3 separate regions of the Homo sapiens genome follow, and regions 2 and 3 are each linked to region 1. The links come from fine-mapping of genetic effects on gene expression. A gene starts in region 1. Each other region holds a variant in brackets. All regions are shown on one strand. Distances are between the middles of the regions. Region 1 holds the start of GAS7 (growth arrest specific 7). Region 2 overlaps GAS7 (growth arrest specific 7). Region 3 overlaps GAS7 (growth arrest specific 7).

Evidence for each region. PIP is the estimated chance that this variant, and not a neighbour inherited with it, causes the effect.
Region 2: its variant is fine-mapped to the expression of GAS7 in whole blood (INTERVAL, PIP 0.93).
Region 3: its variant is fine-mapped to the expression of GAS7 in whole blood (INTERVAL, PIP 0.99). The same link has a PIP of 0.9 or more in blood mononuclear cells.

Annotation. Positions count from the first base shown.
Region 1 is chr17:10,196,111-10,200,328 of GRCh38, forward strand. It overlaps GAS7 (growth arrest specific 7), which reads right to left and starts at 2,496. Exons shown (of 14, transcript NM_201433.2): 1 at 2,098-2,496. The coding sequence starts at 2,280.
Region 2 is chr17:10,018,044-10,022,261 of GRCh38, forward strand. It overlaps GAS7 (growth arrest specific 7), which reads right to left. Exons shown (of 14, transcript NM_201433.2): 2 at 1,734-1,854. Among named protein-coding and RNA genes, the nearest start is that of RCVRN, 110 kb to the left of the region's middle. The variant A/G (reference allele first, on the strand shown) is at 2,318.
Region 3 is chr17:10,113,148-10,117,365 of GRCh38, forward strand. The region is part of intron 1 of GAS7 (growth arrest specific 7); the gene reads right to left. Among named protein-coding and RNA genes, the nearest start is that of GAS7, 83 kb to the right of the region's middle. RefSeq lists a silencer at 2,107-2,166 and an enhancer at 4,121-4,218. The variant A/G (reference allele first, on the strand shown) is at 2,278.

The DNA.
Region 1 (4,218 bases):
CTCAGGGGCTGCGCATGCCCCTTTTCCCCATGGATCCAGACCCTTCGCTCACACGCTGTTTGGCATAGTTGAGCCCGGGCTATCATGTTTAAAAAAGGCACAGGCGCAGGGGGTGATACTCAGTCATCTGAGCTGCTAACAAAACACGCAAGCATTACTAGTTGGGGAGCTGACTTCGCCTCTCTCATATTCAGCTTGCTTGTCTATAAAATGGGGGAAGTACCTCACCCTTCACAGAGCTGTCAGGGAACTGGTGATAACGTGCACACACTGTGCCAAGCAGGTGCTCAGAAGTATTGCTCACGCAGATGGATGCTTCTGTTGCAAGTTACTAGTCAGGAATGGTCTGAGAGGCCCTGAGACACCAGAGATCTCTTACCTTTGTATATGCCAGAGGATGGGACAGACACACCCAAAACTGTCCCAGTTGTTAATTCCGCTTGTCCCCTGGCCCTGGTCCATCGTCCCTTTCCCGGAAGAAAAAGCAGCACTCCACTCTTGCTAACTAACACCTACCCAGCCTCACCCCTACACAAAACACAGCTGGCTCAGTCCAGCCAGGGATGCTCCTCACCGGACAGACATCCATCAGCCAAATTTCCACATCAGAATTTCCTGGAAAAGGGTGACCACCCGAAGAACTCCCAAAATACGTATCTATCCCAGGGCTTCAAGCTAGAAACAAGGAGGCCCCTTGCTTCTCATGTAAGAAGCAATACGTTCGCTTTCTTTTACATCCGAATCTCGGGAAAGGAACTGGAAAAGCCAGGGCAGGGCACACCTGAGCCTCTCCTACAAGTAGGGTATCTCCGGATTCTCCAGATACAGAACCAAGAGGGTTCCTGCAACATACTCTGCTGACAGCCCATGAAAGCTCATTCCAGCAGCCCCTAAACTTTGCTCAAATGCTACTGATGCCTTTAGGAGAGATTTTGTTGTTCTCTGGACCTGAAAGCAATCTAATGTACTTTTATAAGGCCAGGCTCTTGCTGACAATGTTGCCACAGGATACATCCTCAGGCGGACTCACCCTGTAACCATTTCACTTCTTTCTTTCTTCCCCCCGCCCCCGATGAATTGCACTGAGCATTCTCAGTCAAAATTTGCTACTTTCTCTGTGAAGTAGGTCAAGAGTTAAATAATAAATAAATTCAGCCTCCATGATTTCTTCCGGCAGTGTTTTACCAGAATGTTTAGGAATACTGACACCATTGAAGGTAACTGTTAATTTAGTCTTTACAAGAATCCTGGGGGCAGGCGGGCTTCTAGTAAAGGGGATGTCCTGGAAGGTCACCCCCCCACACACAAAGGACTTTAGAAACTTCGGGTCTCACTCAGGCTGTGACTGCGAGCTCAGTGATTAGAGGACAGCCTGTCACATAGACAATAAACAGCCAGCCGCCTTGCCTCAGCAGGTCCTGTGCAGCCCTGGGGCCAGGCCAGAACCCCAGGAACAAGCCACTTTCGGGTTCTGAGCCTTAGCCTCGGGGAGCTGGACCAGGGGAGCAGGCAGTGGCGGGGGGTGCTACGGCACCCCAGGATCAAGCCTGCTGAGGGGGCTCGGGCTGGTGGCCAGCAGGCTCGGCTGACCAGCAAGTGGGTGGTCCCGAGGCGGCCAGGCAGCCTGACCCAAGGCAGCACGACCGTCCACGGGTCATCAGGCTCTAGACTCCGGGGTGGAGACGCGGGGCTGCGGGACCGAGTCGGTGCCACTTTCTCGCACCCCTGATCCTCCGTGCCTCTTCCCAAGACCGCCAGACCCTTCACCGGCCCCTGCCACTGCCGGGAACGCTCCCGCCTGCTCCTTAACTCACACAGGCAACAAGTTCTCGCTTCCTCAGAGCAGCCACGGTGTGCTCCGGAGGCCCGGCGCAAGGTGGAAGCTCCCCGCGAGTCCGCGTTGCCCACGCCCCGAGGGGCGCCCGCTGCCGTCGCTGCCCCCCAGGAGCGTGGAGCTACAGGTAGCGCCGGCAAGGGCTGCCCCCCGGGGCGCCCCTCCGACCGGGACGCTGCGGCATCCCCGGAACGGGCAACAGGTACGCGAGCGCACCGAGGACCGCAGCCCCGGCTCCTACAGCCCCGGCCCTCGCCCCTTACCTCCAGCAACTGCACGTAGCTCGCCGGGAACCAGCCACGGAGCCCGTCCTCCTTCTCGCCTTCCCACCAGCCGCCGTCCGGGACCTGCAGCAGCGTGATCAGCTCGCCCGCGGCGAAGCGCAGCCCCTGGCCGTGCCGCTCCCCGGAGAAGGGGTACAGGGTCCGGCAGCGAGCGCCGGACATGGCCTTGGCGCCCGGGTTCACAGCGCAGCCTGCATTCCCGCCGAGCCCCACGGGCTGGGCAGCGGCTCCGCGGGGTCCCAGGCGCCCGGCGCTCCGGGCTCCCGCGCTCTGGGCGCGCGCCGTCTCTGGGGTGCGCGGGGGTCCTCAGGCAGGCGGGGGACGCGCGCTCCGCGCCGGGAAGCAGAGACTCGTTGGCTTCGCAGAGCGAGCGGCGACGCCCCCGGGCCGGGCAGCTCGCGGATCCTAGCTCTGGGCTGGGGGGCGGGGCTCAGGGGGAGGAGACCCAGGCGCCGCGGGCTCCGGAGACAACTTCCCGGGAACGCGGAACGCGGGCTGCCGCCGCGAGGGCTGGCCGGGGCCGGGGCCGGGACCGGGGCCGGGGCCGCCCTGGCGCGCGGAAATGCGCAGCTCCCCCGGGAGGTGGGACCCGGAGCATCCCCCGCGGCAGGACTCCGCGGCGGGCGGCCGTGGAGAGGAGCTGGCGGCCGGGTGGCCGGGCGGGGGTTAGCTCACTGGCGAGGGGGCGGGCCGGGGCGGGGCCAGGGCGGCCACGCCCGCGGAGGGCTGCGCGCTCCCTCGCAGAGGGGCCTGTCACTGGGGAGAGGGGCTCCCACTCGCGCCCCCACCGCCGGGGACCGCGGGAATGGAAACGCCCCTCTGTTCTGTGCCTGCTTTGTAGGCCTGGCGGCCCGTGGCGTGCGGGCGGCTTCTTCGAGGTGTCTGCGAGGGATCGTTTGTGGTTGTCATTGTAGTGGTTGAACCTGGGGTTGAACTTGTCTCACCGGAAACTGAACAATGGGTGAAAGACAGGTTTGAAGCCTGGCGCCTGAGCCCAGCAGCCTGGTGGCAGCGTGGCACGCTGGAGGGACGGAATGGAGAGAAGACGGGGTCGGAGTTGATAGAATTGGAAACAGTCGATGGGGATAAATGGAGGAAAGGCGAACGGTGAGAGGAACAGCACCAATGCTTTTACTTGCAGAGGGAAGGCCGGCCCAGGGTACCAGCCCTCCCGAAATCGAGATGGGTTGGCTAAAGAGTCTACACTCATGTAGTCAGTCAACAAACATTACCAGGAGGCTGCCATGTTCCATGCGATGTGCCAGGTACTACAAACATCATTTGGGCCAGTCCCTGCTCTCCAGGGACCAGTGAACCTGAGTGCTGCAGAATGTTGACCTTGAACTGACCGTACAGAAGTAAAAGAAAGCTTGGTTTCTTTGCTAGTCTACTCCATAAAAAATTTTAAAGAAATAAAATAAAGTACATTTTTTAGCCTGTAAATAGCTGGACTCGGCCAGGCGCGGTGGCTCACGCCTGTAATCCCAGCACTTTGGGAGGCTGAGGCGAATGGCTCACTTGAGGTCAGGAGTTCAAGACCAGCCTGGCCAACAAGGTGAAACCCCATCTCCACTAAAAATACAAAAATTAGCCGGGCGTGGTGGCGGGTGCCTGTAATCCCAGCTACTCAGGAGGCTGAGGCAGGAGAATGGCTTGAACCCGGGAGGTGGAAGTTGCAGTGGGCGGAGATCATACCACTGCATTCCAGCCTGGGTAACAAGGGTGAAACTCCGTCTCAAAAAAAAAAAAAGCTGGACCCTTTAATACGCCTGTATACCTCTGTCTACTCCTTCCCCCCTCCCCCAGTCACCTTCTGTGGCTCCCTATTGCCTTTTAAATTTGGTACAAACTTCTCTGCCTGTACATTTCAGGCCCTCCACAACGCCTCCTCTAGCTTCACCTCTTACTATGACTGCCTAGATATCCATTACAAAACCAGTCAGGCCGGGCTCCAAGAGCCTGAAGATCTTGCGCACCTGTCTATGCTTTGAATCAGACCCTGGCACAGAGCCTTTCACCTAGTTCAATGGTTCTCAATCCTGGCTGCACATTACAGTCATTATGCAACTTTTTAAAAATACTCATGCCCAGGTTTTAAGA
Region 2 (4,218 bases), 180 kb before region 1:
TTAAAAGAATGGGTTAGACTGAAATGTACAAAGTATAGAAAGATGTCCACATACACTGTCAAAGTAACTTAAAGGACAACATAGACAATATTTTCCAATTTATTTTAAAAGAATAAGTATACATATGTTTAAAAGGTGAGACCGGGGATTATTTTTTATTTGAAATCATTTTGTACTTACTGAATTTTTTACCGTGAAAACAAACTAGTCTCTAACTTAAAAAAAGATAAAGATGCTGAAATTCAGAAAGCCATTTCCCCCCATGCCCCTTTGCAATAGAGTAGCTTATTTGGGACAATAACGGATCCAAATTATTCATATCCCCTAGCAACCTGACCTTCCAATAATTTGGATCCAATGTTGTCCCAAATAATTGATGATCTCATGATCCTACGGTCCAAATTCTGTGTTTGGCAGATGGGTGTTGCATACATAGACACACTCTCCTCTGAAATTTCAAGTCTCCGGTAACAGTGCAAAGCTGTTCATGTGTTTGTTTTGAGGAAGTGTAAGATTAGAACGGTCAGAAATAGTCCTACTTCCCTTTTCCTAGAAACTTCATTACCTCTTGCGCTAGAACACCCCTCTTGAGCCTGTGGAAGGTCAGGTTGCCAGGGGATACGAATAAACCAGCTGCCTTCTTTGTGTCTCTGCTAAACAGTAGCTGGCTCCCCTGTCACTAGGACCCCCTCCTGGTGCAGGCTTATAAACATCAGCTGTAGTAACGATACCCCCAGGTGGGAAGGGGTGGTCATGTAGTCAGGCAGGCACAGAGGAGTGAGAGGCCAAGGCTGAGCCAGCAGTGGACTTGGGTACGATTTTCATCTTTTGCCTTGGAACGCATGTCTGTGATTCCCACTAAATCTAACTTTCCTTGGTTTAAATCCTCTCAGTTCTCTCATGGCAATTTCTCTGGGGAGTCACGGAGGTCAAGACACAGCTCTGTTCAGCTGGTTTACCCTGTCCTGCCCTGCCCAAGACCACAGCCTGCAACAGTGCCCTTTGCTCACCTTGTTACAGAACCTGCCACGTGGTGCATCCCCTTTTATAAACCATCCACAGCAAACTTCTGGGGATCCTGGGGTCATTTGAAGGCCTGGGAGGTCCCTAATTATTGGGGTCATTGAGGTGTGGTCCTATTCAACTCAGATGCACATGGAACCTGTACTATTTGATGGGATAAATAACCCATAAGCACCCCCGGCATTTCCCAAAAAACATCTGGAGAAATGCCAGCCAGTGAGATACTTAAGGAAAAAGATGACGTTGTAGTGAAATTAGGGAAACCTCGCATTTGCAACCCCTGTATTGAAGCTTCAAGATCATTAAAACCTTCAAAATTCCAAGACATCATGCAGTGACTTTGCCTCGTTCATTTTATTCAAGCCAGCTGTTGACCATAGAACCTTTTGAGACACCCTTCAGAAAACCCAGCCCCAGACGAACAGGTTGGGTTTAACACAGATACCCAGGGTGGACGTCAGGGTCCAAGGAAGACTCAAACCATAAAGGGCAGCCTTCCTTCCAAGATACTCCCAGAACTACAGACCCAGACTTGCACCCCTACCACCCAGCACAGTGGGAGGAGTAAGACTTTACTGTAGCCCCTGAGCATAGACTTAAGAAGAAAAAACCCCCAAACAGAGAGGCGAAGAAGGGAGAAAAAACGTGCCCCTCTAGAGAGCCAGAATGCCAGGGGGTTGGTGCAGGATTCTCCCCCGAGCGGGACTCACCATTGGTGGTCGTGTTGACATAGTACCGCCGGCCCTGAGGCGACAGGTAGCTCTGCCAGCCAGGTGGAAGGATGACCGTCTGGCTTTCTTCTCCCGGCGGAGGGGGGACCATTCCAGGCTTCTGTTGGAGAAGAAAGAAAAGGTCACACCCATTTGGCATTTTTGCAAGAGTTTTTAAACCAGGAAGGCAAAGGCTGATGAATTCACCCTACAGTAGCGTGACATTGGGAAGTCTGCGGCCCATAAACCCCTGAGGTCAGAGGCAGCACACACGTGACCTCCGGGGTTGCGTGAGCATGAGCAGTGAGAAGCACCTGAGCATTCAGAGCCCCTGCACAGAGGACAGCTCCTCTGGGAGCAGAGAGGAAAATGCCATTCAGCTAATGGAGCTAGACTTTCTCCACGGCCCCCTAGAAAATCACTCACGGGGTGCTGAGCTTGCAAGGGGGCCCTGTCACTCCACCACCTCCCATTGTGAAATCTGAAGCCTGAAATTCCCAGACCACGAAGCACAGCAGCAGACAAGGCCCCAGGCTTGCTGTGCAAACCTAGCAGAAGTAATTAATGCAAGTCATCCCACAGCC[A/G]GATGCAAAACATTCTATAATAATGCTGAGAATCCATGAAGAGCTGGATGGAGCTTCTCTCGCCAAGGGTCCAGATCACTCTGGCAAAAAGAACGAGGACTCGGAGACAGAGCAGACGCTGACTTCCCATTGTATGCATTTATGTGCAATTAATTCTTTTAACCATGTATAGAATTACTTTTCGTTAAAAAACAAATCAGAGAAAAATGTATATGACATACAAAGAAACTAGATATCTAGTAGACAGATGCTAAAAAAAAAACAACCATGGCCGGGCGCAGTGGCTCACGTCTGTAATCCCAGCACTTTGGGAGGCCGAGGCGGGCGGATTGCCTAAGCTCAGGAGTTCGCGACCAGCCTGGGCAACACGGTGAAACCCCACCTCTACTAAAAATACAAAAAATTAGCTAGGCGTGGTGGTGTGCGCCTGTAGTCCTAGCTACTCGGGAGGCTGAGGCAAGAGAATTGCTTGAACCTAGGAGGCGGAGGTTGCAGTGAGCAGAGATCGCACCACTGCACTCCAGCCTGGGTGACAGAGTGAGAGTCCATCTCAAAACAAACAAACAAAAATATAAAAACAAACAAACAAAAAACAGCCACGATCCCTGGGTGCTGGGATTACAGGCAATTATTATACTCTCCTTTCTACATATCTGTTCCCCCTAAATTTTCTCCCATAAACACAGAAATAAAAGTTGTTAGCTAAAGAACATTTTAAAATTAGGACAGAGAGTCCAAATTAGCCCGTAAGATTGCTGTGCCTTTTGAAGTAAATTGATTAAAATCAGAATTGTAGCCATACGAAGAGAGTAGCCATGAATTTCTCAGCAAAGCCAGGGGACTGTTCACAAACAGTAAAGGTAATCGGCTCCCAAATGTCCTCAGTATCCCCCAGCTGTGCCCATAGTGGTGGTCCCTGGTGACCCCCGCTTAGGAAAACAAGATAACAGAATGAAAGAGAGCAGCAGAGACACACAGCTCCCAGGCTACTCTCACGCTTTGTGAAGGTTGCAAAACCACGTGCCGTGGCTTCCCGTAGTGCCCTGCATGTCATTGGAGGGAACGAGTAAATCTGAGCTGCTCGGGGACTTTGAGTAAACACAGCCTCCCTTCTGCCCTCTGCGTAGCTGCGGTGTAAGTTTCACAATGCATTTTCACAACTTAATTAAAAGCTTTCCCCTATGCCCTGGACGCTCCATCTCCTACACCTGCTAACCTGCAGTGCCCGTTTGATTCCGTATGGAAGACTGTCTTCTAAGACAGCAGGAGACAGTGAGGTGGACAGCAGCCAGGATCAACACGGTGTGGCATCCCACCAGGGTCGCAGGTTGCTGTCTCACCAGCATGTCCAGTAAGCACAAGCCCACATCTGGGCAGGTTTACCTGGGCCCTCTCACTGCTTTGGACTCTCCAGGATTGGAAGATAGCCAAAATATATGCAAGACAAATAGGATTATAACAACGTGCATGTGTGCGTGTGTGTGCGTGTGCATGCGCGCGTGCATGTTGAGAGAAAGAGAAGTATCCCATGCACAGGAGATGAACATTCTGTCCAATAGGATTAGAAATAAAGTCGGCATGGGTGGGGGGTCAGGGGATTAAAACTGAGGGTTAGGGCCAGGTGCAATGTCTCACGCTTGTAATCCTAGCACTTTGGGAGGCCGAGGTGGAAGAATGGCTTGAGCCCAGGAGTTTGAGACCAGCCTGGGCAACATAGGAAGACTCCGTCTGCAAATAATTTTTAAAATTAGCCGGGTGTGGTGGCATACGCCTGTGGTCCCAGCTACTTAGGAGGCTGAGGTGGAAGGATTGCCTGAGCCTAGGAGGTTGTTGCAGTGAGCTGTGATCGCACCACTGCACTCCAGCCTGGGTGACAGAGTGAGACCCTGTCTCAAAACAAA
Region 3 (4,218 bases), 83 kb before region 1:
CTTTTCCAAGCAGAAATTAAAAAAAAATCTGAAAGTGCACGATGCTGGCAAGGCTATGGGAAAGCAGGCACTCCTACTCGCTGCTAGCAGAAGTGTAAGCTAGAACAGTCTTGTTAGAGGCAATCTGGCCCTTTCTGTCAAAACTACAAACACATATATTCTTTGTTCCAACCTTTCAACCTCAGAAACTTGCCCTTCAGAGACCCTCACCCACGTGCAGAATGATGGATATACGAGGCTATCCACAGCAGCAACAGGTAAAGGTAACAGAGAAAGATTAGAAGCAACCTTTATGCCCATTGGTGAAATGAGTGGGGCAGGCATTAAACAGGAGGAGGAAGCTCTTCCTATTGACTAAACTCCAAGATATGTTATATGATTTAACAAAAAGCATCAGTAGCACCAGCAAGGTGCAGAAGTATAGAGGGGATACCTGTGTTCAGAAAACCACAGAGATCGCATTTTTCCGCCCCCTACAACTTGTGCCTCTCACTTCCCGACACACGGTTTCCTGGGTTAAGGAAAATAAAATGAAACATATTTGGAAATTCCTGGACTACTTCTGGAAGTACCCACAAGAAACTGATCACTTGTTTGCCACTCGGGAAGGGAACTGATAGGTTGAGGACAGGGATGGGAAGGAGACCAACTTTTCACTCTACGTTTTTTGTACCTTTCAGATATCAGACCTGAGCATATATTACCTATTTGATAAGTATAAAATTAACAGATATACTTTTGGGTATACATACTGACCAAACATACTTCTGTCTCTTTTGTTTCTCAAGATAGGGTCTTGCTATCTTGCCCAGGCTGGAGTGCAGTGGTGTGATCACAGCTCACTGCAGCCTCAACCTCCCGGGCTCAAGTGATCTTCCTGCCTCAGCCTCCCGAGTAGCTGGGGCTACAGGCATGCACCACCACGCCTGGCTAATCTTTTTTTTTCTTTCATTATTTTTTGTAGAGATGGGGGTCTCCCTATGTTGCGCAGGCTGATCTCAAACTCCTGGGCTCAAGAAATCCTCCTGCCTCAGCCTCTTAAAGTGCTGAGATTACAGGCATGAGCCACCATGCACTTTTCCGTCAATGCTACAGTCTCACTGGGAAGGAAGCCAGTGCCTGCCAGGTGAGTGGGCCCAGGTTACCAGAGCACACAGCCCTGTGCTCCCAAGATGCAACAGGCCCCTCGTTGTGCCCTGCCCTGCAATCTGGTTCTTCAGAAGAGGAGTTCCCAAATACCTGGTCCTCTGCAAATCTGAGCTGTAAACAAGCCTTGGAAAGGTCCTCCCCTTACCTAAATCCCAGCTTCAGGGTCCCGTTTCTGACTGGGGTGCCACCACCAAAGGCAGGGTATACACAGCCACCGAGTGATCCTCTGCCTGCTTCTCACTCCAGGGAAGAAAATCAAAGCAGGTCCCATGGCTGCCGTCTGATAATCACTATGGACACCACACACCAGCCAGCATCAGGGCTGTGTCCAATTAGCCACCCCCATAACAACACCATAGCAACAAAGGTAATATTATTGTTCTAAAGAGAAGAGAAAAACCACACACACACACACACACACACACACACACACACACTGTGTTGTGTGACAGCTTTGAAAGCCACAGAGATCGCATTTTTCCACACCCTAGAACTTGTGCCTCTCACTTCCCGACACACAGTTTCCTCAATGAGAAGTCACAGGCTTGGGGCAATCTCCTCTTCACGCCATTCCAAGATGCGTGTCCTTCACAGGAAACTGGCATGAGAATGATTCTCTGGCAAGCCAGGAGTCAGGGCTGCCTCCTCGCTCTGCCTCTGTGGCTGGCAGGGCTGGGCCAGCTGCAGACCAACAGGCTGGGGGTCATGCTCCAAGCTGTCCTCTGTCTGTCTGTCTGTCTGGCTGGCTGGCTGGCTGCCTCTCTGTGCCAGACCCAAGCTGGCACTGGGGTTTTGGTGGTTGCATCAATGAGCCACACGCTAATCTCCAGACCTAAATGTGGAAAGCATTAACCCAAATGAAAAGACATAAATTAGGACGGGGGCTTATGGGATGGAGGAAAACAGCTCTTCTCTGAGCGAGAGCCTGGGCTGTTGCACAAGAGCTGAGTGAGTCACCAGCCAGCAGAGGGAAGGACCAGGGACGGAAGGAGGGAGGGGAGCCCCCCGTGGGACTGGCGGGTGCACAGGCGGGGGGAACGCTGCAAAAACACAGCTGTAGGTTCATAACTAAGCACACTTCATCAGCAGTCTGAAGGAGGGTGGGGGGCAAAGTGTCACCTCCTCCCC[A/G]ACTCAGGAAGTGTTGCAACACGTGTCCTCCCCAGAGAAGACAGCAGAAAGAAGTGTTCCTAACTGTTCACCCTTTACAGGCTGCAGCTGTGCCCCGGGGAAGCACACCTCAGCACAGAGAAGGCCTCTCTCATCCCTCCTTGCCCCTTCTTGGCAGTGTCCATACACTTGGGGGTCCCCTAGCATGAGGTGTCCATTGTGGGCACACAACTCTTGCCCATACTTATTACCATTTCTTGTCTTTTCTTCCTTTCCTTTTTCCAAACTCCCCATCCTCCATACTACTGTTGTTAACAACAAGACAAATCCTTTGGTCTCCCCCGCCCCTAGTCCCTGGGGAGAACCTTATACCTTCCCTTAAAACCGTGCCCCACTCACCAACCTCCCCAGCCATGACAGATTCCAAAGCTCCAATATCCAGGCAAATTCTTAGTACCTTCTACGAGTGAGGCACGCTGTCCCTGGGGGTGGCAGTGGAGAGAAGGAGCTCTCCCAAACAGATCATCCAACCAGGACTTCTGAGACTTAGAAGCCCTAGAAATTTGCTCAGCACCTTGGTGGGACCCCTCACCTCTCCAGATCATCATCAAAATGAGGTTGGGTTGGCCGGCCATGGTGGCTCACGACTGTAATCCCAGCACTTTGGGAAGACAAGGGAAGTGAATCATTTGAAGTCAGGAGTTCAAGACCAGCCTGGCCAACATGGCCAAACCCCATCTCTACTAAAAGTACAAAAATTAGCCGAGTGTGGTGGCGTGTGCCTGTGGTCCCAGCTACTCAGGAGGCTGAGGCAGGAGAAGAATTGCTTGAACCCAGGAGGCGGAGGTTGCAGTGAGCTGAGATTGTACCACTGCACTCCAGCCTAGGGGACAGAGTGAGACTCTTGCCTCAAAAAAAAAAAAATGTTGGGTTTAGAGATCAGCTGGGTCCCTTAGACTCTGACAGTGCTCATCTGTAAGAAATGCATGGAACAAAATGAATACTCTCCAGAGTACCTGGCTGCTGCAGGGCTTACCCCGGGGAATGCAAGCTGAAGAAGAGTGCCCTGGGCTGAGCGGGTCTCTGCAACTGGCCGGGCTGCTCACAGCCACTGGGTGCTCAGGAAAGGTGACCAGCAGATAGCACCAGCCGCATCCTGCCAGGGAAGTCACTTACAGGAGAGCTCTTGCGGGTAGGGAGTGGGTCTGAAGTGGACTTAGAGGGCAGCTGGCAGAGACAATGGGAAGAGAAGGTATTCCAGACCAAGGAATCATTCATTCATATTCATTCATTTATTTATTCGACACAGGTTTCTTGAACACCTCTTATACACCAGACGCAGGTTTCGACACTGGGATACATCAGTTAACAAGACAAAGATCCATGCCTCAGGGAGCTTACATTCTAGCAGGGGAGATACACAACCCACAACAAGCCAGACAGACAGGTCAATGATCCAGTTTTGCTGGAAGGTGATAAATGATGAGGGGGGGAAAAGAAAAAACAGAGCAAAGGGGTGGACCTGCCAGAGTGAGTGAGAGACTGAAAGGAGATAAAGAGGTCTATTCATATCCTGAGGCTGCTGTAACAAATTCCCATACACTAACGGGCTTCAAACAATGAAAATTTATTATCTTACAGTTCTGGAGGTCAAAAGTCTGAAACAGGTTTCACAGGGCTAAAGTCAAGATGTCTGCAGGGCTGGCTGGTTCCTCCTGGAGGCTCTAGGAGAGAATCCATTTCTTTGCCTTTCTCAGCTTCTGGAGCCCACCCACTTTCCCTGGCTTTCGGCCCCTTCCTCTCGTCACTCAGCCTCTTGCTTCCAACATCACATCTCCTAACACTGATTCTGGCCCTCCTGCCTCCCTCTCATAAGGACCCTTGGCTTACACTGGGCCCACGTGGATAATCCAGGATTATCTCCCCATCTCCGGTTCTCAACTTAATCACAACTGCAAAATC